Homo sapiens: one gene and its partners. The protein of the gene in region 1 interacts with the protein of each later gene in a pairwise test. Each region holds a gene or a part of one and is shown in the gene's direction. Other genes may lie near its edges.

Region 1 (7,606 bases):
CCCATTTATTGAATCATTTCATGAGTGAAAGTGTTATAGACTATTGAAATGATTGAACTATTACTATGTTGATAGGCTTTAACATTGGAAGAGGTCAATGTCAAGGAACCTTTTTTTTCATGCTGGTTGCTCTCGTATACTTATTGGTTCAATTTATCTCTTGAATTTTTCTCACTTTTCATACTTTTATCTACTTTAGTCTTTTACCAGTTATGCTTCCTACCCCCTCTACCCCTGCAACTTCATAGTTGATTGTGACAGGATTTGGATATCTTCTGGTCAAGAGGAAGTCATCCCAGGTTCAGGTCTCTAAATTGGTTCATCTGTGATGAACATTTATTTCCTTTGTTATCACAGAAGGCGTAAAGACAGACATGAAGCAAGTGGGTTTGCAAGGAGACCAGATCCAGATTCTGATGAAGATGAAGATTATGAGCGAGAGAGGAGGAAAAGAAGTAAGGCATGAACAAATATGTCTTAAACATATATAAATACTGGAAGTGCAATTCCACTATGTGCTTTTTCTTTTCAGTTTGATAAATAGTTCATTTGACATTGATTTGGGTAATTTTCTTTCTGGAATCCCAGCAATACACATTTGCGTCACAGTTTTAATTTATATTGGGTTTTCATATGTATTTTCCTTTGAGCTTCACAACCACTTTCTAACATTTATTTATTGGATACTTTGGGACTAGCTTAAAATCTATTCCTGCACTGTCTTTACCTGCAGCACAGTCCAGTTGGCCGATGCTGAATCCACTCTGTTGTTTCTCTTAGGGGGGAAGCATAGTTAACATTGAGTGTGTCTGTTTTGGGCATTGTGACACATTTCATATCCGCTATCTTAGTTAATCCCCAAATGTTTGGTTTTTATTAACTTCTTTTGGAATTCAGTATATAGGTTGAATATTTGTAGGTCTCATTTTTCCAGCTTATAAATTGACTGCCCTTTTTAATAAGGAGGCATGCTTTCCATACTAAGGACATTTGTTTTTTTTTCTTAAACACCAGCAGGAACTAGATAGCTTTGAATGAGAAGACTTTGTTTGACCTTGTAGCTCATGATAGGGAGGTAGTGGCATGCCCATCATATGTATAGTTGTTGACAGATTGATGTTCTTATTTTAATGTGATTAGTAGCAGATTTCCAGTAATCACCCTGAATTTTTTTAACTGAACTTATTAGAGCTAATCTGCTTTTCAGAATCAGTAATCACTCTAGGTCCTAGTGACAAGGTTAGTAAAATGATCATGGAAGTATTTCAAAGGAAATAGAAGAAGGTTTTACTCAGGTTCATATTTCTCCTTGAGGATTTTATATCATCCAGTCCTGTTAATCAAAATGCATGGACACTGGCTTTAGAATAATTTCTAGAATAATTCTTTAGAAGAATGAATTTATTTATTTTTGAGATGGAATCACTCTGTTGCCCAGGCAGGAGTGCAGTGGTGCAATCTCGGCTCACCACAACCTGCAACCTCCTGGGTTCTAGCAATTCTCTTGCCTCGGCCTCCAGAGTAGCTGGGATTACAGGTGTGCGCTACCACGCCCATCTAATTTTTACATTTTTAGTAGAGACAGGGTTTCACCATGTTTGCCAGGCTGGTCTCAAACTCCTGACGTCAAGTGATCCACCCACCTCAGCCTCCCAAAGTCCTGGGATTACAGGTATGAGCCACTGCACCCGGCCTCTTTTTTTTTTTTTTTTTTTTTGGAGACACTCTTGCTCTGTTGCCCAGGCTGGAGTGCAGTGGCGCCATCTCGGCTCACTGCAACCTCCATCTCCTAGTTTCAAATGATTCTTCTGCCTCAGCCTCCCAAGTAGCTGGGATTACAGGTGTGTGCCACCATGCCCAGCTGATTTTTGCATTTTTAGTAGAGATGGGGTTTCACCATGTTGATCAGGCTGGTCTCAAACTCCTAGCCTCAAGTGATTTGCCTGCCTCAGCCTCTCAAAGTGCTGGGATTACAGGAGTGAACCACTGCGTCCAGCCAGAATAATTTCTTTTGTCAAACATTTTGTGCTGATGCAGCATGACTTTGTAATCAATTTTTAAAGTTTTACATTTTGTTTTTATTTCATTGTTGATTAAGCCATAATACATATGTATTATGTAATATTATGTATACGTAATCCATATATGTTAGGACTTATGCCTAATGCAAAATTCCTTGTGGTCTCCACTGATGTTCTCCTTCCAGTTGTCGGATACCAGATAAAAAGATCTGTCTTATCTCTTTTGGTTTGTTTGTGTTCACCATTCGTTGTCCAGGAAATACACCAGGAATAGTGACAACACGCAGCAGTTTCTTCAGGAGCCAGAAGGACCCACGCTTTCAAATATGTGTTTAGTTCCAGTGGTTTGCACACTGGAAAAGGAGCGTGCTGTGTGGTGGGGGAGATATGGCAACGCAGGGAGCTGGGTTTACTCCCTTTCTGTTGATTCACTCCCCTCTGATCATTCTCTTATTTGTAAACTGGATGCAGTAATATCTACTTCAGAGGTCTGTGAAGCCTGAACGAGGCCATGTGTATAAAGGGCCTAATGGGTATTGCTCTCGGTAAATAGTTACATTACTCTCTTTTTAAGTAACTGCTGGTTCTCTTGGTTGTATTGTTTTGCCTTAAAATTCATTTGCAGACTACATTGTGGGGCTCTTGAGTTCCTTTTATGAAGGAACAATTTTGCATATCTGAGGGAGTGTTGCCACTTTTCTACATTTTAAATCCTAGCATCAGAGGTTTGTTCATATGTAGCAGGAGGTCATCTGAAGTAGCAGGTCCTCCTTTTTTAGTTTTTTCTTAGGGGGGTGGGTGATAGATATATGGTGTGTCATAGTCGTTTGGGAGTCTGGCATCGGAAACCTCCTTTAATGCTTGGATTTGTGGTTTTGCAGGTATGGGCGGAGCTGCCATTGCCCCACCCACTTCTCTGGTAGAGAAAGACAAAGAGTGTAAGTAGATCTGTTTCTTCCTCTTTTATTCTGATACAGGTCTTTAACCCAACCATGGGGGATCTCAGCTTGGGCCCCCAGGTTTCCTGAGCGTAGAGGGAAACGGCCTGCAAGCCTGCCTGGCTCTGTCACCTGAGGCCGCACCTGGATCTCAGAATGCAGCGCCCTCCTGCAGAGAGAGACCTTTCTACGCCAGGCTCTGAGGCTTGGATTTCATGCAGTGGGATCCATCTCTTTTTTATGCAATTCACTTTGATTTCATTAACATTTCTTATTTGTTGTTAGATTCATTTGGAGTTAAAACAGCAGATCGTTACAGTTTTTTAACTCAGAGGTTTAGAGGCTGTTATATTCATGATCCTCCACAAGGTGGCAATGCCTTCCTTGATTAGATTTTTTCTTCCCGTTCCATTTCACTGCAGGTGGGTTTGCGTGTCATTGCGTTGCCAAAACACCCTCACCCACTGTTCCTTCTCGCAGTGATCTGCTCTAGAATTTGGGGGTTGGGACTGGACTTCTGAATATCATCTAGGTCATTTTCCCATTCTCTGGATTGGACCATACTTAAACTATCCCAAGCAGATATTCTCATTTATAGTACTTTTTAAAACTTGTTGAATTCTTTATCTTTTAAAGAAGATAATTTCTAAGATATTATGAAATACCTATTATGTGAAAACAACAGACAAACAATAAACCCCAATTGAAACTAGTCTCTGGGAGTGGGGCTCAGGCATCTGGATGGTCTTAAAGCGTCCTACTGACTTTCATCTAACTAGGGTTGAAGCCACCGCTCCAGTGCGTAGCCCCTAACCTCGGACACCTTTGTGGGCCATGAGCTGATGAGATAGTGAGGTCGGGGTCTAGACAGGTGCACCCAAGTTACTGCAGGAGTCAAAAGATGGCCAGATTGTATCTCCTTAGAACATACAGAACATCTTTCCGGCAAGAATATTCATTCAAGAAGATTTTAAAGGGTGAATAACATTTCAGTAAGATATAAAAAAGACGTTTGAGGAGATAGAAATAGCAAAAGGAAAGTTAGAATCAGGAAAGTAGCGTCCTCCCTCTGTGGTTTTAAAAAAAGTCGTATAAAGGCTGTAAAATTGATTTGGTGTTTTTCTCTCCTTGTGGTAAACCAAAAAGTAGGTTAAATTTGTTCAAGATAAATAATTGATACAAGTGAGGTTTCAGAGTGTTTTCTATAGTATTTTGGTGAGCCTACTTTATTTTTCTCCAATAGTACCCCGAGATTTTCCTTATGAAGAGGACTCAAGACCTCGATCACAGTCTTCCAAAGCAGCCATTCCTCCCCCAGTGTACGAGGAACAAGACAGACCGAGATCTCCAACCGGACCTAGCAACTCCTTCCTCGCTAACATGGGGTAATGATTTAATGTTCTTATCTAAGGACTTGAGAGACAGTGTGAAGCGTTGATAGCCCTTTCAATAGATGCAGCTTGTTTGAAACTGAGGACATTCAGGACCCTTGGTGTGTGCAGGTCACACGGTACCTGCCTCAATCGTGTGGAGCGTGTTCCAGTGTAATGATGGGGCTTGTTCAAAACAGCAACCTCCCAGTAGAAGTTTTGACTCATTTTGATGTTGAACATTATTTTCCTAGACAGGCACAGAACCTGATTAATGTTTACATTTGCCTTCATAACGTTTGCAAATAAAATAGCTCATATGAATCAGAGCTGACTTACTGTCTCCAAAGGGCAGGTGATACCTTTTTTTTCCTGATAAAGTGGGCCATTTGCTTTCAGGTCATGGTTCTAAACCTTTGGTCTAAAAAACTCGGGGTCATTCTAACTACAAGTTGACATGTTTGCCAGCATATAAAATTTGACTGTAAGGCTGACGCTCAGGTGGGGCTTGGGGATTTTTTTAAACTGTGCTGGGCTTGGCAAACATTTTGGTTAAGAGGATATTCTGTGTTGTTGACTTTGATCCTGTGAGACGGCTGTCCCATGAAGCAGTATCACATGAAGGCTTTGTTCTGTGCTGTGTTGCATCTGCTGGCTGCTGCCTGTAGCAGAAATGCAGCCGGTGAGACAGTGAGTGGGGTTGAAACTCACTAGTCTCCTTTCAAGTGCTCAGTGACCACATGCAAGTGGTGACGATGTTGGATGGTGCAGACATAGGACATGGCCGTGGCTGCAGGAAGCTTTGTGTACTGGAGGGTTGGACAGACATGAAGCTGGTTTTGTTTTGTTTTGTTTTGTTTTCCCTGTTTATGATAAAAACTGACTTTTTAGCGAATTTGCTTTTAACCAGGAATTACATCTTTAACTTGTGCTTAGGAAAGATGCAAGATGGTACCATTCAGCAGTTTCTGGTCTTTTTAGCCCTAGAATAGCTTGTTCAAATGAAAATGTTAAGGGAATTAAATACAAGAAGTAATGTAGGTGCAGTTCCAGTTGAAGCGGGATTTTGTGGCTTAAGCCCTAAGCAGCAGTGGTCATGGGGTTGGGGTGCCCTTCAGACCCATGCTGCGCCTCAGAGCGCAGTGTGAGAGCCATTTGGTTGTTACAGAAAGCAGTGACTGAGAGTTGTGGGGTCCAGTTTCAGCTCTACCATTAACAGCTGTACAAATAATTTATTTGTTTTCTGAGATGGAGTCTCGCTCTGTCGCCCAGGCTGGAGTGCAGTGGTGCGATCTCGCCTCACTGCAACCTCTGCCTCCCAGGTTCAAGCAGTTCTCCTGCCTCAGCCTGCCAAGTAGCTGGGACTACAGGTGCACACCATCATGCCCAGCTAATTTTTACATTTTTAGTAGAGATGAGGTTTCACCATGTTGGCCAGGCTGGTCTTGAACTCCTGACCTCAGGTGATCCACCCGCCTCGGCTTCCCAAAGTGCTGGGATTATAAGTGTGATCAACTGCACCCAGCCTGTACAAATAATTTCTAATATGGCGTCTTGCATTACTTCTAAGTCCACCCCTTAAGCTAGTCAGCTAATCTTGGCCTCCGTTTATTTCTCATTTGTTAAATAGGTGATCTCTAAGGGTTCTTTCATTTGTATAGTCTGTCATTGGAAACTCTCCTGTGCTATTTAGGAAAATGGGATCATCTTCATTGTACGAAACTTCATACTTACTTTTTGATAGCCACTTTTTAATAAACTGTGGTCATAAGCTATGTGGCAGTGCAGGTCCGGAGCACACAAAAGGTCTTGTGTTTCCTAGCAGGGCACTGAGGAGACTCCACCAGAGAAACTGACATTTCCCCTCCAAGACAACAGGATGTTCTGGATTTTATTCATAGCTTTTTCTATTTCTTTCATGCTGCACATCCCCACAGCTTCCATCTAATAGCCCACTCCTAGTTAATGAGTGACTTTGTTGAAGCCCCTGTGGAGCATGCACTCTCTCCAGAAGGAGGTTGTTGTGATGGAAAAATGCAACCTATCTCCAGTTGACGATGTCAAGGCTAAGAGTCCTTTCCCTTCTTCTCCTGCCAGGGGCACGGTGGCGCACAAGATCATGCAGAAGTACGGCTTCCGGGAGGGCCAGGGTCTGGGGAAGCATGAGCAGGGCCTGAGCACTGCCTTGTCAGTGGAGAAGACCAGCAAGCGTGGCGGCAAGATCATCGTGGGCGACGCCACAGAGAAAGGTGTGTCCCCAGGGAAGCGTGTGACTAGAGGGAAAGGACTGGCCCCATCCATATCAGACATGGCCAGTCTTGATCCTCATGTGTCAGCAGGGGGACAATGAGGCGTGTGGCCAGAGGGAGAGGGCTGGCCCTGCCATCACTAGAACACAGGCCGTCCTGTTCATATGATGCACTGCCACTTCCGTTTTGTGAAACCAGGAATCCTGAGGCTCATCTTTATTTTTTCAGAACAGACGTAGAGAGATGAAGGCTTGTGGAGGAAAAGATGGTGAGAGACTTGGGCAGAAAATGAGTAGTCCTCAGGAAGAAATCTTGGTTATGTGTTTAGAGCATGAAGGACAGAGCCATATAGTGTGGCAGTGAATATACCTGCTATCTCCATCTCAGAGGTCGTCTCTACTTTTCCCTTTTGCCCTTTCAGTATAGATGTGATTTCTGATTCTCTTACAGATTGTTTGCTTTGCGAGATCTGATGTTATGTTGCAGTCTCTTGGTAAATGATGCCTAGTTGGTGTTTTATTTTCATTTAATTTTTACAGTCTGTTCTGTGTTGAGGGAATTCAGGAAAGAGACAAACATATGTTAGCATTTTAATCAGGGAATTAAGTTTGAGTCAGCCTAGCTGAACTTCCTTTGCTAAAGAAAGAAGAAAACTTTTCTGGCAGCCCCGTTCATGCACAGCTTAGGATACATCACGAGCCTGACAGGTGAGTGCCAGAAACCAACAGTTGTCCCGACTTGTGAGGTTATCTGAAGTAAGGCAGCCGGTGGCTGGATTAGTAACTGCATATTCCCCTGGGCCCGTGACCTTGAACGTTTGCTCCAAGTCAACTCACCTATAGGAATTATCACTCACATGCCCTGTCAGCCCTTTGGGAAGTGAGATGAGCAAAAATTGCAAGTAATGGTGGAGGCTCAAAACATCCAGATGCTATTGTAAAAACATGCCAAAGCAAAGCAGAGGCTTTTATTGCAGATAAGGCTGTGTTTTCGCTCAGAGACCAATTGTGTAGATGCCTAGGACATAA
Region 2 (7,606 bases), on another chromosome or scaffold:
TGTATTTAAGTTCTACATACACACTTTGAATGAATACTGCTTATGTTAGTATTTAAAGTTTGTGACAATCAGCTGCTTCTTGCTAGTTCACTTAGTTAATCTTGGTTGGATTGATGACAATGTTGCTTTCAGTGCCTGTTGTATAGGAAATTTTTTCTTTTTTTTGAGACTGAGTTTCGCTCTTGTTGCCCAGGCTGGAGTGCAATGGTGCGATCTCAGCTCACTGCAACTTCTGCCTCCTGGGTTCAAGTGATTCTCCTGCCTCAGCTTCCCCAGTAGCTAGGATTACAGGCATGCACCACCACACCCAACTAATTTGTATTTTCAGTAGAGACGGGGTTTCTCCATGTTGGTCAGGCTGATCTTGAACTCCGGACCTCAGGTGATCAGCCTGCCTCGGCCTCTCAAAGTGCTGGGATTACAGGCGTGAGTCACCGTGCCTGACCCCTGTGAAACTGTTTTTATGTTTTGCTTTTCAGATACTTACAGTAGAAAACAAATCTAACAGAGGTTTGTTGAGAATAGATTTTAAAGCAATTTCAACAAGCTCAATATATTTGTAGGTACCTTGTATTCAAATTAAACAATTGTAATTTCAGCTTTCCTTTTTTTTCTGTTTATTTTTTCTTAAAAATATTTGATAGAGACAGGGTTTCACCATGTTGCCCAGGTTGGTCTCAAACTCCTGAGCTCAAGTAATCCACCTGCCTTGGCCTCCCAAAGTGCTGGAATTACAGGTGTGAGCCACCATACCCGTCTGAAACAAATGTGTTTTCAAAATCCATCTTCAATCCTTCATCTGTCAACAGTTCTATTAGTTTATTTTGTAAAGGTATAGTTATGTTTAAATATGATGAAATTCTTTTGAGGAAAGAAATGGGTTCTGGATTTTATATACTTATTTAGATTATAGTTGGCAAACCAGCCTTAAAATATCACATCTGTAGCCTGTTCCTTCAGTGTACAACAGATAGCAACTCTCACCACTAGCCACTTACCACACAAGTCTAACAAAGAGTGAATAGGTACATACTTCATTCAAAAATGGAGTATAGGCTGGGCGCGGTGGCTCACACCTGTAATCCCAGCACTTTGGGAGGCCGAGGCAGGCAGGCGGGTCACAAGGTCAGGAGTTCAAGACCAGCCTGACCAACACGGTGAAACCCTATCTCTACTAAAAATACAAAAATTAGCTGGGCATGGTGGCACGCACCTGTACCCCAGCTACTCGGTAGGCTGAGGCAGGAGAATCGCTTGAACCCGGGAGGCGGAGGTTGCAGTGAGCTGAAATCATGCCACTGCACTCCAGCCTGGGCGACAGAGTGAGACTCTGAAAAAAAAAAAAAAAAAAAAAAAAAAGGGAGTCTATGGTATTTGGATGTTGCATCAGTGTCAACTTGCTATAGAAATTGCTAATATCTTACCCTCAATTTCTGAAATGATCTTGTTGGGACTGTGAACAGCAGGTGCAGGAGTGGTACCAGAATGTAAGTTTGAATAGTGCTGTCCAAGGAGGGTTTTGTCTGTATTAAAGTTTGAATCACAGAACTGAATGCCAAACTTCAGGCTTGGTGTAATTCGAAGGAAATAGAGCAGGACATCACCTCTCTCATTCTAAATACTTTACTTTTGTGAATGCAGCCCAAGTTTGGGAAGGGGGGAATGGGTGTGTGCATGTGCATGTGTATATTTGTGCTCATATCACTGTTGACTCAACACTTTAAATGGACTAAAATTCCCCGGTGTTTTCATAGTTGCCACTATTCTATCACATCTTCCTTTCATTCCTAACCCCTGGCTACAATTCCCTTCTCTAGAGGTGATGAGAATTGGCAGTTGCTTGTGCATGTTTCTAGAGATATTCTTTTCATAAAGGTACAAATGGTACTATACTATGTACCATTGTTATTTGTATAGATGCACTATTAAACACCTTACTTTCTTCACTAACTGTATCTTGGAGAATCATTCATATTGGTATATAAAGAACTTCCCCATTTCATTTCAAGACTACATCATATTCTATAGTATGGATGTCTCATATTTGTTTAAGAAGTTACATATCAAAGAATATTCATGTAGTATGTTGTCTTTTGCTATATTATAATTGGATAACTACATATTCCTCATTTTCTATATTTAGTAACCTATCTTATAGATATATCCTCAGGACTGGAACTTCAGGGCCAAAAGATAAGTGCATATTAAGTTTTGTTATGTATTTATGCCAACAATTTATACCAAAATTATACCTGTTCACATTGCCACCAGCAATGTATGAGACTACCTGTTTGGGGGAATTTCTGAGTTTTTTTGTTAATCATAACTGCAGTAGGTAGAATTAACCAACTGATTTTTTTATTTTATAAAATTGATCTAGGATTGAAGGAATTAAGCTCAAGCCACAGGTTCTCTGTCCTGATGATAATCATTGTACTTTTGAGTGGCAATTTGATCTCATGTGTATCTAAATCCATAAAATAGCAACAGAACAGGAATCAATTGTGTTTTTAAAACGCAAACCTTTGGATGGTTTCATTACTTAATGCAGACTCGTGCATTTAAATGGGAAGCTAAATTGAATGCCATAATCATATTGTTTATTAAAGTTTTTGTTAAAAGTAATTTTGAAAGAATCATTTTACATTTGTCGCTTCAGTCAGACTGAACCTAAAGACTTATTAATTATAAAAAAATTTTTTAAGTGATCCCCATCACAGTCTATAGGGCCTGCCCTCTGTGATTTCCTCTGTGGAGGTCAGTCTTGGTTTTGCTCACAGGAAGCTTTATGTTTCTTGTCCTGTATGTCAGTGTGGTCTGACAGCAATCCCCAGGTCCTGGCCAGTGGTACTGATGTCACATTATTTTATGCCGCTTGCTTCGGCGTATCCTTGAGGTAGCCATGGAACCAGAATCCACTCTGATGGCTTTCTCCTGATAGGTGAACAAGTAATTGCATTTGCAGTCTGAGGACATTTATTTCCAGAAGATCAGCCCTGTGCCCCTGAATCCTGCAGCACTTAATCAGAGCACTAAGGGAGCGACCATCCCCAAGGCCTTGTCACTCTGGCTCTCGAGTCCTGCATTTTATACAAGAAACAGCTTAGGGTTCACTGAGCTGAATGTGCCTGAAAAAGAGAAACCCAACTTGCTCACAGACACCATTGTATTCTATGAACACAAACTGATTTTGTGATTTTCACTAGACATAAATGTTGATGCCTAGGTTTAAAAAGAAAACGTTCTTTGGATTTGTTAGAGAGGATTGTTTTGGCCCTTTTCTTGAAGTCAGTGAAACATTAGTATGATATTGGGGTAGAAAAATTCCTCATAGTTGAAATATTTTAATTGTGTTTATTGGTCTTGTGGTGTTGGCTGCCAGTTGAGTTGTCTACTCCAAATTGACAGTAACTCCATAAGTCACAAGCATCTGAGATATATTTTGTGTATTTTGAGGGTCTTTAGTGAATATATAATATTCCATATGGTTTTAGAATTCTAAAGTGATTAGGATTAATTTCCATCCCAGCATCATTGAATTTAGGACCTCAATTTTCTAACCACACATCAGACTGTGCAGTCGACCCTCTGCATCCACAAGTTCCACATCTGTGGATTCAACCAACTATAGATAAAAAAATATGGAAAAAAGCCAATACAAATAACAAAACAACAATAAAAATAATACAAATAAAAACAACACATGATAACAGTTATTTATCTAGCATTTACAGTGTATTTGGTATTATAAGTAATCTAGAGATGATTTAAAGTATACAGAAGAATATGTGTAGCTTATATGAGAATATTATTCCATTTTATATGGGAGACTTGAGCATCCTCAGGTTTTCATATCTTCCGGGGTCCTAGAACCAATTCCCCAAGGATACCAAGGAACGACCGTAGTTTCCAAGTAAAATATGCCCCAATTTATTATCACCTTTACTGATACTAGTTACTCTAATTGAGCAAGTGAGAAGATATTGTATTATGATCTGAAGAGAAATCTGTAAACTGTTAAAATATTGAATTTGTGATAAAGTGTCCTTGACTCTACTTTTAAGGACCGTCATTTAATTAGCAGCAACAGTGGGGCTTCTCTACAGACATGACTAGTTTAGCAAAGGAAAGGGGAAACCAAGACCTTGAAAAGCAAAAGGCATTTTACAAAATAGATTCCATAATTAGTTGAGTTATTACATCTCTGAAAAGGGCAGGCTTCTCTAACTACATATCTACTCTGTGACTTTTCTTTCAAATTGATGCCTGAGACTTCCTTGATTTTAAAAAAGTCACCATAATGGAAAAAATAAGATGTTATGTTTCCTATAAAAAATAGGAACTAGTGTTTCAGGCTATCCTTTTTCCTGTTTCCAAGCTGTTAATGGAGAGAAATTTCTTTTAAAGCCCAGTTCTAATGCAAAAGAGGTGACTGCATTTTAACTGGCAGCCTGAAATGTTATCAGCTCATTTAGATGTAGAGTCTGTTATTTAAAAATATTGTGTTTCTTTTTAGTGCTTTTTACCTCTAACATACTATTTTTAATAATTTTTTTTTTTTACCAGTTAACTAGGTAGCAATACTACAGCCATGCTAGTTAACACGCCGCTTAATATTTCTTAATGTGAATTCATGTATTTTGGAACTTGATGTTAAAAAATAATTTTAAAAATCAATTTTAAAGATGCTCATGCCTGTAATCCCAGCACTTTGGGAGGCCGAAGCGGGTAGATCACCTGAAGTTGGGAGTTCAAGACCAGCCTGACCAACATGGAGAAACCCTGTCTCTACTAAAAATACAAAATTAGCTGGGCGTGGTGGCACTTGCCTGTAATCCCATCTACTCGGGAGGCTGAGGCAGGAGAATCACTTGAACCCAGTAGGCGGAGGTCATGGTGAGCTGAGATTGTGCCATTGTACTCCAGCCTGGGCAATAAGAGTGAAACTCCGTCCCGGGAGAAAAAAAAATCCTCCTTTGGTGCCTCTGTGGGCCATTCTAGATTATGGTAAATAGAATTAAGTACACAGGTAACCTTCTTTATGTCCTTCATTATTTTTCTGAACCTAATTTCACATGTTATGTTCTTATGTTGTTATTTTGAGACAAGGTCATGCTGTGTCACCAAGTCTGGAGTGCACTGATGCAATTACTGCTCACTGTAGCTTTGAATTCCTAGGCTCAAGCAATCCTCCTATCTCAGCCTCCCAAGTAGCTGGGACCATAGCACATGCTACCATGCATGGCAAATTATTTTATTTTATATAAGATGGGGGTTTACCAAGTTGCCCAGGCTGGTCTCCAACTCCTGGGCTCAAGCAATCTTTTGTCTCGATCTCCCAAAGAGCTGGGATTACAGGAGTGAGCCACTGTGCCCAGCCCATATTATATTCTTTAAGATTATTCTTCTAAGTATGATACTTTCCCTCTACTTTTAATCCTCCCACCTACCAAATGGCTAGTTGTTTCTGTTTCCTTTCTTCAGGTTCTTTCTGCGTTGTCTTTATGAGACAAGGGGATATGCAATGAATATTGGATATTGGAAGTCAATGAATAGTTTTATGCAATGATGTTTTTATGAGAATATTCCTCTATTATTCAAAATAGCATTGAGGGGGCATCTTTATTCAAATAATTGTTAGTGCCTAGCTAGGACTCTGAGAGCTTACTGTTTATTAAAAATAAATTTCCGTATACACCAAGCTTGAGAAAGATAGTTCTATAAACATATTCTACATATGGACTGAATCTACTAATATGTTATCCAATGATTTGTTTTTATTAACTCTTTCCAGTATTCCACACAGAAAAGGCTTATGTGTCAAAGTTTCCTTCTTTTTTCTAACCCAGATTTTATATTTTATATCCCTTCTCTGTGTTTTTTTTTTTTTTTTTTTTGATGGAGTCTTGTTCTGTTGCCCAGGCTGGAGTACAGTGGAGTGATCTCAGTTCACTGCAACCTCCACCTCCCAGGTTCAAGCAATTCTCCTGCCTCAGGCTCCCGAGTAGCTGGGATTACAGGTGTGCGCCACTATGCCCCGCTAAGTTTTGTATTTTTGTTTAGTAGAGGTGGGGTTTCACCATGTTGGCCAGGCTGGTCTTGAACTCCTGACCTTAGTGATCCACCCACCTCAGCCTCCAAAATGCTGGGATTACAGGTGTGAGCCACCACGCCTGGCCCCATTTTCTGTTTTTAAGACACCTAAATTTTCCTGACATACCATTGGGATTTAATAACTTTATGAGGAGACTATAGGGAACTTGGAGTTAAAAATGGAAGGAGTAATTAACCCAACCCCTTGTAGTCATTAGCAGGCAAAGTCAATGAATTTGCCATAGCAAATGCAGGTGTACCCTGTTGACTTCTAATGGTATTGTCTTCACTTTCTGTAATCATTTTAGGACCTGCTCAGTGCTGTAGAAGCAAAAGAAGCTCTTGAAAGGGAAGTTAAGATCTTCCAAGAAAGGCTGCTTGCTGGCCAGCAGGTCTGGGATGCCTCAAAGCAGGAAGTGAGCCTCCTGAAGAAAAGCTCTTCTGAGTTGGAGAAGAGTTTGAAGGCCAGTCAGGATGCAGTCACAACCTCACAAAGCCAGTACTTCTCATTTAGGGAGAAAATCGCAGCCCTCCTTAGGGGCAGATTGAGCATGACTGGGTCCACTGAGGACACCATTTTGGAGAAGATTCGAGAAATGGACAGCCGGGAAGAAAGCAGGGACCGGGTGAGTGGGTCATGGCTGTTTACAGACATCTTAAGAACAGTGAGCTCATTCATTTAGCATGCTCAGTGACTGTATTAGTCTATTCTCACGCTGCTATAAGAAATACCCGAGACTGGGTAATTTATAAAGACAAAGAGGTTTAATGGATTCACAGTTCCACATGGCTGGGGAGGCCTCACAATCATGGCAGAAAGCAAAGGAGGAGCAAAGGCACATCTTACGTGGTGGCAGGCAAGAGAGAGAGTGTGCAGGGGAACTGCCCTTTATAAAACCATCAGATCTCCTGAGAGTTATTCTCTATCACAAGAACAGCATGGGAAAAAGCTACCCCCATAATTCAATTACCTCCCACCAGGTCCCTCCCACGACACGTGGGGATGATGGGAGCTACAATTCAAGATGAGATTTGGGTGGAGACACAGCCAAACCATATCAGTGACTTATCTCAATTAGCTAAAAGCATCACTTAAGGCCAGGCCTGGTGGCCTAGGCCTGTAACCCCAGTCCATTTGGAGGCCAATGTAGTCACTTGAGGCCAGGAATTCAAGACCAGTCTGAGCAATATAGTGAGACCCCTCTCTCTACTGAAAATAAAAATTAAGTCCCAGCTACCTGGCAGGCTGAAGTGGAAGAATTTCTTGAGCCCACGAGTTTGAAGCTGCAGTGAGCTATGATTGCGTCTCTGCTCTCCAGCCTGGGCTACAGAGCAAATCCTGTCTCTAAAAAAAGTATAATTTAAATGTGGTTGTATTAATTTCCATTTTAATGGAAAGGCATGGCAGTCCCACAAGCCACATCTAACTGTGATGCAGGTTCTGGAGTTGGACCTGCCTGGTGCTGAATCCCGTCTCTGCTGTACATTCACTCACTGTCCATGTGAGCTTGGG
Region 3 (8,570 bases), on another chromosome or scaffold:
AGACAGAAACTTAGTAAACTTTTTAACCTTTTGGTCCTTGGTTTGCCTGTCCGTATAAAATGGGGAGAACAGTCGAAAAACTTGCCCCATAAAGTTGTGACGATTAAGAGAGTTTATGTTTACAGAGCAGTGCTTGGCTTACAGTGTAAGCTTTTCTCTTTTGGTGGATCGGGGGATGCTGAGGCCCAGGACAAGCTGATGGACCCAGTACCAGGAGGAAGTTGGCACAGGTGGGATCTAACCCAAGAGGTCTGCCTCCAGGACTGGGATTTTCCAAGTATCTCCCTGAAGTTCGCTTCTCCTCCTCCTCCCAACATCCTACTCCCTACTTTGAGGAAATCTAAGGTTCAGAGAGGTTGAGCAACTGGCTTGACATCACACAGCCTTTTAAGGAGACTGTGCAGAGATAGTCTGACCTTGGACTCCCTCACTTTCAGAGCTTTGACCCGAGGCTTCCTGCTTCTCCTGCCTGCTCTGCCCTTTGCTGTTAAGACCCTGCGCTTTGGGCTTCCAACTCATTGGGGACCCTGAGGGATGTGAACATTAGTGGCCGAGGTCACACAGCAAGTAGGGCTGGTGGCCATGTGTACCTAGCCAGCCCTGTTAGGGAGGGCCACTGAATTGTACCCATTTTACAGATGAAGAAACTTGGAGAGAATGGCCACCGTCCCTTGGTCATGGAGAAAGGCCTTGCCACCAACAGCTATGTTGGGGTTCATTTGTTTGAGACAGAGTCTCGCTCTGTCACCCAGACTGGAGTGCAGTGGCGCCATCTAGGCTCACTGCAACCTCTGCCTCCCCGGGCTCAAGTGATTCTCCTGCCTCAGCCTCCAAGTAGCTCAGATTACAGGTGCCCACCATGCTCGGCTACTTTTTTGTATTTGTAGTAGAGACAGGGTTTCACCATGTTGGTCAAGCTGGTCTGGAACTCCTGACCTCAAGTGGTCCACCCGCCTCGGCCTCCCAAAGTGCTGGGATTACAGGCGTGAGCCCCCACGTCCGGCCAGGGTTTGGTTTTTAGCTGTCACGTTGCCTTGTGGGAGGTCATGCAGACGTTTCAGCAGGGCCTGAAGGAACCTGCTGAAGGGAACTGAGGCTGAGGTGGGAGAGCAGGGGTGTCTTGACACACAAGAGACCAAGAACCACATCTCGGGCAGAGTGTCACTGGTTGGGAGACCGGGACCCAGCTTAGGTTCCAGTTGGCATTTGTGAGATCTCAGGCGAGTCCTCCTCCCCCGATGGCCTCTACATCCTGTGCTGTGAGATGCGGGTGTTTGCATCCAGCATAACATCTCTCAGGTCAGAAGTCAGAACTGGGAGGTGCTCAGGGGACGGACAACAGTGACCGCACTCAATGATGGTACCTACTGTGGCCCCCAATTAGTAGAGAAGGGGAAGGGAGGTTTTGAGACTTGCCCAACACCCCTGTTTTTTTTTTTTTTTTTTTTTGAGACAGAGTCTCGCTCTGTCTCCCAGGCTGGAGTGCAGTGGCGCAGTCTCGGCTCACTGCAAGCTTCGCCTCCTGGGTTCATGCCATTCTCCTGCCTCAGCCTCCTGAGTAGCTGGGAATACAGGCGCCCGCCACCACGCCTGGCTAATTTTTTGTACTTTTAGTAGAGATGGGGTTTCACCGTGTTAGCCAGGATGGTCTTGATCCCCTGACCTCATGATCCGCCCGCCTCGGCCTCCCGAAGTGCTGGGATTACAGGCGTGAGCCACCGTGCCCGGCCAACACCCCTGTTAAATGGCAGAGCAGCGATTCAAACCCAGGTCTCTTGCTTGCCTGCCCCCAAGTGGTCTAAGGCGAAAGGACTCTGAGGAGCCCTGCAGAGAGGTGGAGGACGTACTTTGTTTTTCTTTTTTTTTTTTGAGACTGAGTCTTCCTCTTGTCGCCCAGGCTGGAGTGCAATGGCCTGATCTTGGCTTACCGCAACCTCCACCTCCCAGTTTCAATCGATTCTCTTGCCTCAGCCTCTTGATTAGCTGGGATTACAGGTGTCTGCCACCATGCCCAGCTAAATTTTTTTTTTTGAGACGGAGTCTCGTTCTGTCTCCCAGGCTGGAGTGCGGTGGCGCGATCTCAGCTCACTGCAAGCTCTGCCTCCCTGGTTCATGCCATTCTCCTGCCTCAGCCTCCTGAGTAGCTGGGACTGCAGGCGCCCGCCACTATGCCCGGCTAATTTTTTTGTGTTTTTAGTAGAGACGGGGTTTCACCGTGTTAGCCAGGATGGTCTCGATCTCCTGACCTCGTGATCTGCCCGCCTCAGCTTCCCAAAGTTTCTGGGATTACAGGCGTGAGCCACCCTGCCTGGCTAAATTTTTTTTTGTATTTTTAGTAGAGACAGGGTTTCACCATGTTGCCCAGGCTGGTCTCGAACTCCTGACCTCAGGTGATCCACCCACCTTGGCTTCCCAAAGTGCTGGGATTACAGGCGTGAGCCACTGGGCCCCACAAGTTTGTTTTTTTTTTTCTTTACAAGATGAGGTCTCGCTCTTGCCTTGGCCAGAGTGCAGTGGCAAGACCACAGCTCACTGCAGCCTTGACCTCCTAGGCTCAACTGATTGTCCTGCCTCACCTCAGCCTCCCAAGTAGCTGGGACCACAGGTGCACGCCACCATGCCCTACTAATTTTTATTTTTATTTTTTCTTTGAGACGGAGTCTTGCTCTGCCGCCCAGGCTGGAGTGCAGTGGCGCCATCTCGGCTCATTGCAAGCTCCGCCTCCCAGGTTCACGCCATTCTCCTGCCTCAGCCTCCTGAGTAGCTGGGACTACAGGCGCCTGCCACCATGCCTGGCTAATTTTTTTGTGTTTTTAATAGAGATGGGCTTTCACCGTGTTAGCCAGGTTGATCTCGATCACCTGACCTCATGATCCGCCAGCCTTGGCCTCCCAAAGTGCTGGGATTACAGGCGTGAGCCACCACGCCCAGCCGCCCTACTAATTTTTAAATAATTTTTTTGTAGAGATGGGATCTATGTTGCCCAGGCTGGTTTTGAACTCCTGTGTTCAAGTGATCCTCCAACCTCGGTCTCCCAAAATGCTGGGACTACAGGTATTGAGCCACTGTACTCGGCCTCTTTTTTTTTTTTTTTTTTTTTTTTTTTTTTGAGTCAGGGTCTCTCATTCAGGCTGGAGTGCAGTGGTGCAATCTTGGCTCACTGTAGCCTCCACCTCCTGGGTTCAAGTGACTCTCCTGCCTCAGCCACCAAAGTAGCTGGGATTACAGGCATTTGCCATCATGCCTGACTAATTTTTGTATTATTAGTAGAGACGAGGTTTTGCCATATTGGTCAGGCTGGTCTCAAACTCCTGGGCTCAATCGATCTGCCCGCCTTGGCCTCCCAAAGTGCTGGGATTATAGGCATGAACCATCGCGCCCAGCGTCCCCAGCATTTATTGACACCTAGTTGAGGCCAGCCCTCCAGTCTGATGGGGGAGTCAAGCAGGCATGAGCTGTGATGTGAAGGGCTTTTTCTAAATCACAGATCTGACTCCTTACTTGAAACCTTTTTGGAAAAAGTCCTGACTGCACCAGTCCCTGGGCTGGCCAGTGTCTCCTTTCAGGAGCCTCTCCACCCAAATTCCCAATATCCTGCCTTCCTGGCCTCAGGGTCTTTGCACGGCTGCAGCTGTAGTTCTGTGCCAGCTACTCTTCCCCCAGTCATGCAGCTGAGCGCCACCTCCCAGCCTCAGCTGCACAGTCCTCGGAAGCCTGTCCCTAGTAACCCTCAGGCTAGGCCAGCACCTTACTGGGCTCCTACGGTCTCCAATTGCCCTGAGAACTCCCAGTTTGTGTTTAGCTCGTTGACAGCACAGAAGGGACCTGTTCTGATGAAACATCCAAAGGATGAGCTGGGTGCAGTGGCTCATGCCTGTAATCCCAGCACTTTGGGAGGCCGCAGCAGGCGGATCACTTGTGGTCAGGAGTTTGAGACCAGCCTGGCCAACATGGTGAAATCCTATCTCTACTAAAACTACATAAATCAGCTGGGCGTCATAGCATGCACCTGTAGTCCCAGCTACTCAGGAGGCTGAGGCACGAGAATCGCTTGAACCCGGGGAGGTGGAGGTTGCAGTGAGCTGAGATCGTAGCACTGCACTCCAGCCTGGGCAACAGAGCGAGACTCAATCTCAAAAAACAGACAAAGGATATAAACCCCACCCAACTGCCATCTGCCATGTCCCTGATTTTGTCCAAAGTCACACCCACAGTATAGGGAAGGTTTTGGAGGGGGTGATCGCTGCAGAGGGAGGTCAGGCACCCCTGCTGGTTCTTGTCCCGGCAACCCCCAGCGGCTCCCCAAGGAAGCCAGGCAGAGGCTTCTGGGCCAGGCTGGCTTTGGCTGGAGCCAGCTGCACTGAGTCCAAGGTGCGTGTCAGCCTTGGCCCAGCCAGCGGTGACTCATGCTGGGCCCCAGCCCAGCCCCAGGAGGTGATCCAGGACAGCAGCCTGACTTCCCCTTATAGCGCTGCGGCTCAGGGTCAGTACCCACTTTTGCCGGGCCCAGTGGGGATCCCAAGAGATCAAGTCCGGCCCCACCCCAAGGAGCCCGCAGTCTCAGAGCCACACCCAAGACATCAGTGAGAACCCTGACTGGCCCGTTGCACCCCCTTTTTGGTCCCTTCCCATCTAGCCATTTTACAGCCTCAAATTCTTTGAGTTGTTTGTATCCCCAGACATGGGGCAAATTCCAGCATATAGTAGGTGCTCAGAAAATGCCCGTGGGATGAAAGACTGAAACTGCCTCTAGGTACATGGAGGGGGAGATTTGGGGTTCCCTCTGTGCTGAGAACCCTTTGTACTCAGGATGAGCCGGTGTAGGTAGCAACCACCATGACCTTTGGCCCTGCCCTGCATCCTGTTCCCCAACCTCTGGCTGTGCCTTCTAGAATCCCCACCCCCTAAGAGCTGCCAGGGATTGGCCAGAACTTGGCTTTGAGTCACAAAGCTGCTGCGGCACCAGGGCTCCAAGACTGGCCGTTCAGACTGCTAGGTTTAGCTTCAGGGGCAGGTGAGTGGGGCTGGTGGCTTTGGGGGCGGGTGAGTGGGGCTGGTGGCTTCAGGGGCGGGTGAGTGGGGCTGGTGGAGGACTTGTTTGCGAGGGTTCGTGGGGGACCCTGTCGTTCTCCTCTGGCCCCCAGTGCCTTTAGAGCCCTTCTGGGCCTTCTGGGTGACTGCAAATGATGGGTCAGCTCCTTGGCCCCTCACAGCAGGGGCTCTAGGGACCTCTAAAGCCTTGATGGTGGATTTGTTCACCTGTGATGGGGGACATCATGGAGAGCCTGTTATGTCTCTTTATTATTATTTTTTTAAATAAATAGAGACATGTTGCCCAGGCTGTTTTCAAACTCTTGGGCTGCAGCGATCCTCCCACCTTGGTCCCCCAAAGTGCTTGGATTACGGGCAGGAGCCACTGCGCCCAGCTGAGCCTGTTGTGTCTCTTTGGCAACCTGAGGATGGTGATCTTATGTCTTGTGACAGATAGGGAAATTGAGGCTCAGAGGGGTTTACTCAAAATTACCGAGCCAGTCGCTTGGCTTCTGTGTCCAGGGGGCCCCTGTTCCTTCTTCTCATCCCCCACAATCCCGTTTCTCACCCCTTCTGGTTGAGTTCCTCTAAAGAGCTGCACCGTTTGGTTGATGAAACCTCAGCCCCTGGAATGGGCCCATTCAGCTCCCAGAGCTGCTGTCTCCCGGGTTCAAGTGATTTTCCTGCCTCAGGAGTTCGAGACCAGCCTGACCCATATGGTCAAACCCCATCTCTACTAAAAATTCAAAAATTAGGCCGGGCAAGGTGGCTCACGCCTGTAACGCCAGCACTTTGGGAAGCCAAGGCGGGCAGATCACCTGTGATCAGGAGTTCAAGACCAGCCTGACCAACATGGAGAAACCCCATTTCCACTAAAAATACGAAATTAGGTGTGGTGGCGCATGCCTGTAATCCTAGCTATTTGGGAGGCTGAGGCAGGAGAATCGCTTGAACCTGGAGGCAGAGGTTGCAGTGAGCCAAGATGGCGCCATTGCACTCCAGCCTGGGCAACAAAAGTGAAATTCCGTCTCAAAGAGAATAATAATAATAATTAGGCCGGGCATGGTGACTCATGCCTGTAATCCCAGCACTTTGGGAGGCCGAGGCGGGCGGATCACTTGAGGTCAGGGGTTCGAGACCAGTCTGGCCAACATGGCGAAACCCCAACTCTACTAAAAATACAAAAGTTAGCCAAGTGTGGTGGCAAGTGCCTGTAATCCCAGCTACTCGGGAGGCTGAGACAGGAGAATCACTTTGAACCTGGGAGGCGGAGGTTGCAGTGAGCCAAGATCGTGCCACTGCACTTCAGCCTGGGCAACAGAGCAAGATTCCGTCCATCTCAAAAAAATAAAAATAATAAATATATGTGTGTCAATTATCCATGCATTGCCTCTTGTCTCCGAATGGACCCTTTCAATATGTGATAAACAAAGGAATTTCTTTCGTTATGTCTTGTTTAAAGTGAGCACAATGCTCGGCCAGGCGCGGTGGCTCACGCCTGTAATCCCAGCACTTTGGGAGGCCGAGGTGGGCGAATCACGAGGTCAGGAGATGGAGACCATCCTGGCTAGCATAGTGAAACCCCGTCTCTACTAAAAATACAAAATATTAACTGGGCGTGGTGGCAGGCGCCTGTAGTCCCAGCTACTCAGGAGGCTGAGGCAGGAGAATGGCGTGAACCCGGGAGGCAGAGCTTGCAGTGAGCCGAGATGGTGCCAGTGCACTCCAGCCTGGGAGACAGAACGAGACTCCGTCTCAAAAAAAAAAAAAAAGTGAGCACAATGCTAAGATTTCTCAATAGAGGGCGCTGGTGAGGCATTAGGGATAGAGGTGTGAAGACACCAGGTGAAGCCTGCCCGAGCCCTGGATCCAGAACGTGGTCCTGTGACTTTGCAGTCTTGACCTGGTGAAAACCTTTCTGCAGCCCTCTCAACACACACAAAAAACAGAGCCCCTAAGGCCGGGCGCGGTGGCTCATGCCTGTAATCCCAGCACTTTGGGAGGCCAAGGTGGGTGGATCACCTGTGGTCAGGAATTTGAGACCAGCCTGACCAATATGATGAAACCCCATCTGTACTAAAAATACAAAAATTTGCTAGGCGTGGTGGCAGGTGCCTGTAATCCCAGCTGCTCAGGAGGCTGAGGTAGGAGAATCGCTGGAAACCGAGAGGTAGAGGTTGCAGTGAAAGGAGATCGCGCCACTGCACTCCAGCCTGGGCGACAAGAACAAAACTCAAAAGAGAGAGAGAAAAAAAAAAAGGCCAGGCGCGGTGGCTCACGCCTGTAATCCCAGCACTTTGGGAGGCCGAGGCAGGCGAATCACCTGAGATCAGGAGTTTGAGACCAGCCTGGCCAACATGGTGAAACCCCGTCCCTCCAAAAACAAAACAAAACAAAACAAACAAAATTAGCTGGGTGTGGTGGGATTCATGCCTGTAATCCCAGCTACTCGGGAGGCTGAGGCAGGAGAATCGCTTGAACCCAGGAGGCGGAGGTTGCAGTGAGCCAAGATGCTGAGTGCCGCTGCACTCCAGCCTGGGGGACAGAGTGAGACTCTGTCTCAAAAATCATAAATAAATAAATGATAATAAACGAACAGAGCCCCCACGGTGGCCCATACACATTGAAGGCCTCCTGCCCCAGCAACACTTAGGTTTCCAGTGCACATCCAGAGCACCAACTGTTGATAACCTGTTCCCACATCTGCACCCTGGAGGGTGGGCCTTTTGCTTGTTTTGCAACTCCAGACCAGCTCTGGCTTGGCCGATCCAGCAATTATCTCCGTTAACTTGTTAGGCGGGACCATACTTTCTCCAAGGAAGTCTGAATGCTCTCCAAATTTGCCCCTTTTTTGGGGATACTCCCTCAGCCCTAAAGTACCACATAGAGTTTCCTTTTATCTTTTTTTTTTTTTTTTGAACTGAGTTTCGCTCAGTCACCCAGGCTGGTGTGCAATGGTATGATCTCAGCTCACTGCAACCTTTGCCTACTGGGTTCAAGAGATTCTCCCGCCTCAGCCTCCTAAGTAGCTGGGATTACAGGCACCTGCCATCATACCTGGCTAATTTTTGTATTTTTAGTAGAGACAGAGTTTCACCATGTTGGCCAGGCTGGTCTTGAACTCCTGACCTCACGTGAGCCACCCACCTCGGCCTCCCAAAGCACTGGGATTACAGGCGTGAGCCACTGCGCCTGGTTTTTTTTTTTTTTTTTTGAGACAGAGTCTCACTCTGTCGCCCAGGCTGGAGTGCAGTTGCGTGATCTCGGCTCACTGCAATCTCCATCTCTCGGGTTCAAGTGATTCTCCTGCTTCAGCCTCTGAAGTAGCTGGGATTACAGGTGCATGCCACTGTGCCTGGCTAAGTTTTGTATTTTTAGTAGAGACGGGGTTTCACCATGTTGGCCAGGCTGTTCTCGAACTCCTGACCTTGTGATCCACCTGCCTTGGCCTCCCGAAGTGCTGGGATGACAGGTGTGAGCCACCATGCCTGGCCTCCCAGGTTACCTTTTATCTTATACTTACTCTTTAATCACAATCT
Region 4 (7,606 bases), on another chromosome or scaffold:
TGCTTCAAGGTGCATCTTTGTTGTGGCATGAATCAGTACTTCATTCCTTTTTGTGGTTGAATAATACTCCATTTTATGGACATACCATATATTGTTTATCCATGCATTACTTAGTAGATGGACATTTGGATTGTTTCCACTTTTCTGCTGTTAGAAATAATGCTGCTGTAAACATTCATGTGTGGGCTTTTTTTGTGTGAACTTATGTTTTCAGTTCTCTTGGATACATGTATATACACACACCGAGAAGTGGAATTGCTGGGTCACATGGTAACTATGTTTAGCCTTTTGAGAAACTGCCAGTTTTTCCAAAGTGGTTGTATCACTTTACAGTTCCACCAGTAATGTATGAGGGTTCCAGTTTTCTCACGTCGTACACTAACACTTTGAGACCAGCCTGACCAACATGGAGAAACCCCGTCTCTACTAAAAATACAAAATTAGCCGGGCATGGTGGTGCATGCCTGTAATCCCAGCTACTCGGGAGGCTGAGGCAGGAGAATCGCTTGAACTCGGGAGGCAGAGGTTGTGGTGAGCCAAGATCACAGCATTGCACTCCAGCCTGGGCAACAAGAGCGAAACTCCATCTCAAAAACAAACAAACAAACAAACAAAACTATTTTGTTTGAAAAGTTTATTTTAGTCATTTTAGTGTGTGTGAAGTTGTACTTCATTGTGGTTTTGATTTGCATGTACTTGATTATATTGAGCATCTTTTCATGTGTTTATTGTCCATTTATAAGTTTCTTTTGGAGAAATGTCTGTTCAGATACTTGGCCCACTTTTTAATTGGGTTATTTGTATTTTTGTTGTTGAATCGTAAGAGTATTTTACATCTTCTTGAGTCAAGGTTCTTATCAGCTATATGATTTGGAAATGTTTTCTGTTCTCTGGGTTGTCTTTGCATTTTCTTGATGGAAGCATGGAGGTTTTAAACTTTAATGGAGTCCAATTTATCAGTTTTTTTCTTTTGTTTACGCTTTTGGTGTCATATCTAAGAAACCATCACCTAATTCAAGATTATGAATATTCATTCCTGTGGTTTTCTCCCAAAAGTGTTATAGTTTTAGCTCTTACTTTTATGTCCATGAACCATTTTGAGTTAATTTTTGTACATTTAGTATATGGTGTAAAGTAGAAGTCCAACTTCATTTTTCTGTATGTAGATATTCAGTTGTCCAAGCACCATTTGTTGAAAAGATTATTCTTCCCTATTAAATTATGTTGGCACTTCTAAAAGAAGGATTCCAAAAGTAGATTAAGAAGCAGTTTTAAAAGAGGATTCCAAAGATGTTACTTACTGTTCCAGTAACTCATGTCCTCCAGAGGTGATTTTTGAAGAGTGCGTATTTTTGGCAGTTACTTTCCATGGCAGTTCAGTTACTTCATGTTCATTAATTTCCCTGACTACTGGTTGTCATTTTAATTGTTTAATTGTAGTAATAATTTAATTGTTTGTTATTTTGAAGGAAGGGGAAGGGAGGTTCAATGATAAGAAAAGCATTCTTCCTTTTTAATTTAAATAATTAGAACATACAATTTGTACTGAAATGATGTAAAAAGGCTCTTATTATTGAATCATTGGTTTTGCTTATCCTTTTGTTTGAAGTATAACTTGTCATATCCTTTATAGCCACTTAAAAAAGGAGAGAAAGAAAAGAAAAAAAGCAATTTGGAACTCTTCAAAGAAGAATTAAAGCAGTAAGTTTTATAGTGTGGAGAATAACTATCATAGGTGTATTGAGCTGATACATAAACAGATGCAAGTATAAAGAATATACTGTACCAGTTAGTTATTACTAACCAGTTTGCTATGAGATTGTTTTAGATATTATAATATTTGGTGGGCTATCTTTGAAAATAAATTAGCATTTAGTCCAGCACCTGGGTTGCTTGCATTACGAGGATTCAGTTCAATTGATTTACTTAATGTCCAGAGTCCTGTTTGCAGTGGAAACAGTATACTCACTGGGATGGGAGTGAGGGGCAGTTAGACTTAGCAAGAAACAAATTCAGTGGTTTTAGTGTTTAATTTCCTCCTCACCTTTAAAGTAGGCTTTGTGTTCCATTGGTAGTATGATATATCAGAAATTTGCTCGTGGTTGTATTATAGCTGAGGGACCCTCTAATCTTGGTTATCAGTACCAGTATTTAATTACAGATATTTCTAGTTATTTGATGATAGTAATTTGATAAGCGCTATTCTGAAATGTGAATGAACAAATTTTGGCTCATTATAAGTGATTGTAAATATTTTCAACAGAATTCAAGAGGAACGTGATGAGAGACATAAAACAAAAGGCAGATTAAGTCGATTTGAACCTCCTCAGTCAGATTCTGATGGTCAGCGTCGTTCTAGTAAGTGGCATTTATTTTAATGTGTATGCTTGTGATTAATTACAGTAGTTCCCACCTTATCCGTGGCGGGTTACATTCCAAGGATCACCAGTGGATGTCTGAAACCATGGATATATACTATCCTTTTCCTTACACATTCATAGCTGTGGTAAAAATTAATTTGTAAATTAGGCACAGTAAGAGATTAACAACAATAAGTAATAGAACAATTATAACAATATACTGAAATAAAAGTTATGTGCAATCCCAACACTTTGGGAGGCCGAGGCAAGTGGATTACCTAAGGTCAGGAGTTCGAGACCAGCCTGGCCAACATGATGAAACCCTGTCTGTACTAAAAATACAAAATTAGCCGGGCGTGGTGGTGCGTGCCTGTAATCCCAGCTACTCAGGAGGCTGAGGCAGAAGGATTGCTTGAACCTGAGAGGCAGAGGTTGCAGTGAGCCGAGAACGTGCCATTGCACTCCAGCCTGGGCGACAGAGCAAGAGTCTGTCTCAAAAAACAACAACAACAACAACAGAGTTGTGTGAAGTGGTCTCTCTTTTTGTCTCTCAGAAATACCTTACTGTAACAAACTGGGGGAAACAAAGGTGAGGGTAAGGGGGGACTACTGTATTATAAAAACTAATAATTGTCTTCTTTTCTCCCCTTTAAGTGGACGCGCCTTCAAGAAGAAATAGATCATCTGGTGGTAATACAGTTTTTTGCTCTTTTAATCGATAAATTTTCCAAACTTTATGTTTTGCAGGTTATAATTCTTTTTTTCTTTCTGCCCTAGTTCTTGATGATTACGCACCTGGCTCACATGATGTAGGAGATCCAAGCACTACTAATTTATACCTTGGAAACATTAATCCACAGGTAATATTAAGTAAGATGAATGTTGATTGATATGCTTTATGCTTTTGGAAGAAAGCTTTGTTAGTCAAAAAAAATCAAGATTCTGAAGCTGACAAATCTGATGGAATTGGATAGTCTTTAGAGTTGTCTTACTGGTATGGCCCAGGTTGTCTTGCCACATATTCTTGTTTCCTCTTTCAGTAACTAGATTGAACTCTGGATTTGAAATGTTTTACTAGGTGCTGATTTTATTATTAAATCAGGGTGTGACCATTGATGAATAATATTATTTTGAGACTGTCCACTTCTGATGCATACTTGTTTCCTTGTGGAGTCCCTTTTTCTTCTCATAGTAGTAAACTACTCTTTGTGGTTTGTCTTTTATATTTTAATTCTTTTCCTGCATTGGTGCTGTTAATTATGATATGGGGAATGTAGTAACGGTAGTATATAATATGCTATTATTAAAAATTATATTTTGCATATATACTGTTACCTGTTTTCTCTGCATTTGATTACATGGGTAGTTGATTGTTAGAACAGATGATTAGATACTTTTTTTCTTCATTGTCAATACATATTTCCTCTTTAATTTAAATGTACTAACCATGCCTGCTTGAAAAATGTTACTAAATGCCTAAACAAACCATCACTATAAAACATCTTACTTAGATCCAGGACCTTAAAACAAAGGAAGATAGAGAGTAAAAATGATTTTGATTTCTTCATCCACTGAACTTCCCCACCCTGGCATCTTAAATAAACCAGAATATTTATAGTATGAAATGATTTATGAATGCCCCACGCGGGATTTTACTTGTGTGGCGTTCCTGGTACTTAAATGGAAAATTGAAGCACGTTGCTATGTTGCTTTTTATTTTGTAAAAACTACTTTGTTTTCTGAAAATAATTTTTTCTTTTCCCTTTTTTGCATAATAAAAATCTTTTACCCTTTTTAATAGATGAATGAAGAAATGCTGTGCCAAGAATTTGGAAGATTTGGACCGTTAGCCAGTGTGAAAATCATGTGGCCTAGAACTGATGAAGAAAGAGCCAGAGAGAGAAATTGCGGCTTTGTGGCCTTTATGAATAGAAGAGATGCTGAAAGAGCTTTAAAAAATTTGAATGGTAAGAACATTTTTATTATCCATTTATACAATTCAGATATTTCTTTGGTTTGGAAAAGTATTTATAAAAACTAGGAAGGATTGGACCTGAAATGGAGAGGTTAAAATGAAAATTATTTCAACTCACCAGAAAAATTTTGTTTGGAAACTTTTGAGAGTTAACAAAATGACCTTTCATTTCTTTCTTGTAGGAAAAATGATTATGTCTTTTGAAATGAAGTTAGGTTGGGGTAAAGCTGTACCTATTCCTCCACATCCAATATACATTCCGCCTTCTATGATGGAACATACGCTTCCCCCACCTCCATCCGGACTGCCTTTTAATGCGCAGCCTAGAGAGCGGTTAAAAAACCCTAATGCTCCTATGTTACCGCCACCTAAAAACAAAGAGGATTTTGAGAAGGTAATTTAAAAAATGGACATAAGGCCGCATCTAATTTGTAAATACTAAAGCTGTGGTAGTATTTCTTTTCAACAATTTTATAGAAAATGTGTGTGTAATTCTGTTTGGCAACTTTTAAAGAAATAAGTAGATGTGTTCCCTGCCTTAGCCCATGGAAACCCTATATTTGAAATACTAGGTCATATTTTTATTTGTGGCTACCATTCCTTTTTTGACCACTTGTTAAGTTTTTTTTCCTTTGTCCAGTGTTGTATCCAGATTTGCTTAAGTGTATTAACTAAATTTACTTTGTTCTGAGAAAGTGATACTTTGTATTTGGTTAAGTGACATTTCAATTAGAAAGACCTCCTAAGTAGTTATTGTTTGGATGGCAGCTAGATCTGAGGTATTAGAATATTTGAGAAGATTTATGTGGTTTGTAAAAAATAGTTAATCTAGTAAAAGCAAAGGGTGAGTATTTTCTTTTTAGTAAATAAAACCAACTTAATTTCAAGTTATAAGAATTCGTTGGTTCTATTATGAATTAATTACACTTAAAATGACAGGGCTGGTTTTAAAGGCTTGGGAACAAAGTAGCGAACTGTATGGTCAGAGGCAAACAGTTAATTATTTCACAAATTAAAATCTTTATCTGATAATTCTCAGTGTAGTACCTATTTCAGTGCATTGATGTGCATTCTGGCAGGAATGTTCTGATTCTTTGCATTTGGTGAACGTTTATTGTTCACTGAACACATCCATTTGCATTTATGTAATTGCTTAGTGTATAATGACTTCAAATGCAGTGATTGCCTGCAAAACTTGTGATTAGATATGTAGTATTTTCAATGCATATGTATATTTTTGCTTGTTACTTGTTAACAATACTCACATATTCTATGTTTATTATCTGATGTGACTTCATATACAGACTCTGTCGCAAGCCATAGTCAAAGTGGTTATCCCAACAGAAAGGTACATGTTTTTCTTTATTATTACTGATCTAAATATAGACAATATCCCCTTCTGAATTTAAAAAGAAATGGTGTTGAGGAAAAGGTAGTATCTTGACTGAGCAATGGTTCCTTCCCAGTACTTTTTGCGGGGGGATGTGTGAAATTTAACTAACTTTTGTATACTTTGCAATTTTATGTCAGTATCTTTTTTTGTTTTTATTGTTATCACTGTAGGGAATGTTTATAGTTTGACTAGTTAGAGTGTATTTATTAGCTCTGATTTGGAGTCAGACAATAGACTATTGTCATGGGAAAATAGATGTTTTAAGTGTGTCGTAAATTTCAGATAACGTTACAGTTTGACCCAATCTGTTGTTATTTTTTTCTTGTTTTCTGAATTATCTGCATTTAATATATAACCTTGGTTTGAGTTCTCCTTACTGAAGGCATAGCTTTGTTTTTTGTTTTTTCAATTGATTTTAAGAAGAAATTCCTATTATTGTCATGAACACTGGACATACTAGAAACTTTCTTTTCATGGTAACAAAGGTATTTGGAATTCTTTTATTTTCCTTTCTTCCTTTTTTTCTCTTTCAACACACTATTAAAGCAGAAGAATTCATGCTGTAGGTATGCTCTTGCTCAGTCAAGCTAAGCCTTTTCCCAAACACAGGAACACAACACTGGTTGAATAATAAATGAACACAAAAGAATACCAAATTCTCTTTGACATTGGCCTTGGTGAGCAACACCAGCTGAACTGTCTGCGGCAGCGGGGGACCAGGAAAACATCATGGGATGGATTGGGAAAGTATACAGTTTTTGACCAGACATTGGTACGATCGACTCCAATAAATGTGGTTTTATTATAACTGAGAGACAATTTTTTGTTTTTGTTTTTTTTTTGGTTATTGTTGCCCAGAATAAGATAATTACCATTTTAAAATTAAATAATGCACTTTAAATATATCATCTTTTTGTACTACACTGTTTTATTCTAATAGAAAAGTCACCATTTTTAAAATAAACACAATCCTTAAGGAAGAAGAATGTGATTACAGTTCTTTAGTAATCTTGACATCAAGTTAATAACAATTAATTGTCAGATTTTGATTTTAAATAATCATGAAACATTTTAAAAATACTTATAAACTTTTAATTTTCTAAAAATAGATTTATCAGTTACAAGCCTGTTTAAAACTATAGTGGGTTTTTCACCACTGATAAAAGCATTCACAGGATAGTATTTTTGTAGCATTCAAAAAAAGCACATATCTAGTGGTAGCTTTACATGTATGTGGCTCAGCTTATTTCTAAACAAAATTTTGAGTGTGCGTTTTGCCGAAAGTCTTCACTCACCATTAGGATGAATCCTTTGTTTTTAAACTTGCTAAACAATTTTCCTCTATCTTAAATGCTAAAGTCAAGTTGCTTTTGACTTAATTCACACAAGTTTCTGGATGTATAACATTTGTCCACCTAGTAATTAGTCTTATACATAAAATTTCCCTTAGCTTTAATTTGGCTCCTATCAGTGGGGAGTTTTGGAATTGAATCATAACTTTACATTATCGCCCTTCCTTCAAAATAATGTCATTAACCATATGAATGCTGAAGAACTGCATATTTGCAGAGCAATTACTTCTGTGAAAGAGAAATAATTTTTAAATAGAAAATTAAGCAATGTTTTTAGTTTTTTGTTTTGACAATTTGAGGTTGAATTAGTAGTTTTAAATGCATGATTTCCCCTTTGTAAAGATTTAAACTGTGATGCAATTTTTTTTACTTCCTTTAGGCTTAAATTTTTTTCACTATGGAGAGATTTCATTTTAAGTAGGTTTGTTTGAAAGCTATGAGAAAATAATTATAGTCACCTTGAGATAGATTATTTTATTGTTCATGTACTCTGAAATAGGGCATTATAGAGCCACAAAAGTCTGTC

The links.
Region 2: the proteins of RBM17 (region 1) and CCDC170 interact in binary tests that used the Homo sapiens proteins (3 or more experiments, as listed by UniProt).
Region 3: the proteins of RBM17 (region 1) and IQCN interact in binary tests that used the Homo sapiens proteins (3 or more experiments, as listed by UniProt).
Region 4: the proteins of RBM17 (region 1) and U2SURP interact in binary tests that used the Homo sapiens proteins (3 or more experiments, as listed by UniProt).

What each region holds. Positions count from the first base shown.
Region 1 is NC_000010.11:6,105,784-6,113,389, forward strand, and holds part of RBM17 (splicing factor 45), read left to right. Parts: intron 1-357; coding exon 358-455; intron 456-2,902; coding exon 2,903-2,959; intron 2,960-4,202; coding exon 4,203-4,344; intron 4,345-6,426; coding exon 6,427-6,578; intron 6,579-7,606. UniProt on the Homo sapiens protein: Splice factor that binds to the single-stranded 3'AG at the exon/intron border and promotes its utilization in the second catalytic step. Involved in the regulation of alternative splicing and the utilization of cryptic splice sites.
Region 2 is NC_000006.12:151,566,773-151,574,378, forward strand, and holds part of CCDC170 (coiled-coil domain-containing protein 170), read left to right. Parts: intron 1-6,401; coding exon 6,402-6,719; intron 6,720-7,606. UniProt on the Homo sapiens protein: Plays a role in Golgi-associated microtubules organization and stabilization.
Region 3 is NC_000019.10:18,270,847-18,279,416, reverse strand, and holds the start of IQCN (IQ domain-containing protein N), read left to right. Parts: upstream 1-4,964; 5' UTR 4,965-5,014; intron 5,015-8,570. UniProt on the Homo sapiens protein: Essential for spermiogenesis and fertilization. May be required for manchette assembly in elongating spermatids.
Region 4 is NC_000003.12:143,018,336-143,025,941, forward strand, and holds part of U2SURP (U2 snRNP-associated SURP motif-containing protein), read left to right. Parts: intron 1-1,633; coding exon 1,634-1,701; intron 1,702-2,263; coding exon 2,264-2,358; intron 2,359-3,014; coding exon 3,015-3,050; intron 3,051-3,137; coding exon 3,138-3,220; intron 3,221-4,161; coding exon 4,162-4,327; intron 4,328-4,517; coding exon 4,518-4,729; intron 4,730-5,639; coding exon 5,640-5,683; intron 5,684-6,148; exon of another isoform or gene 6,149-6,213; intron 6,214-7,606.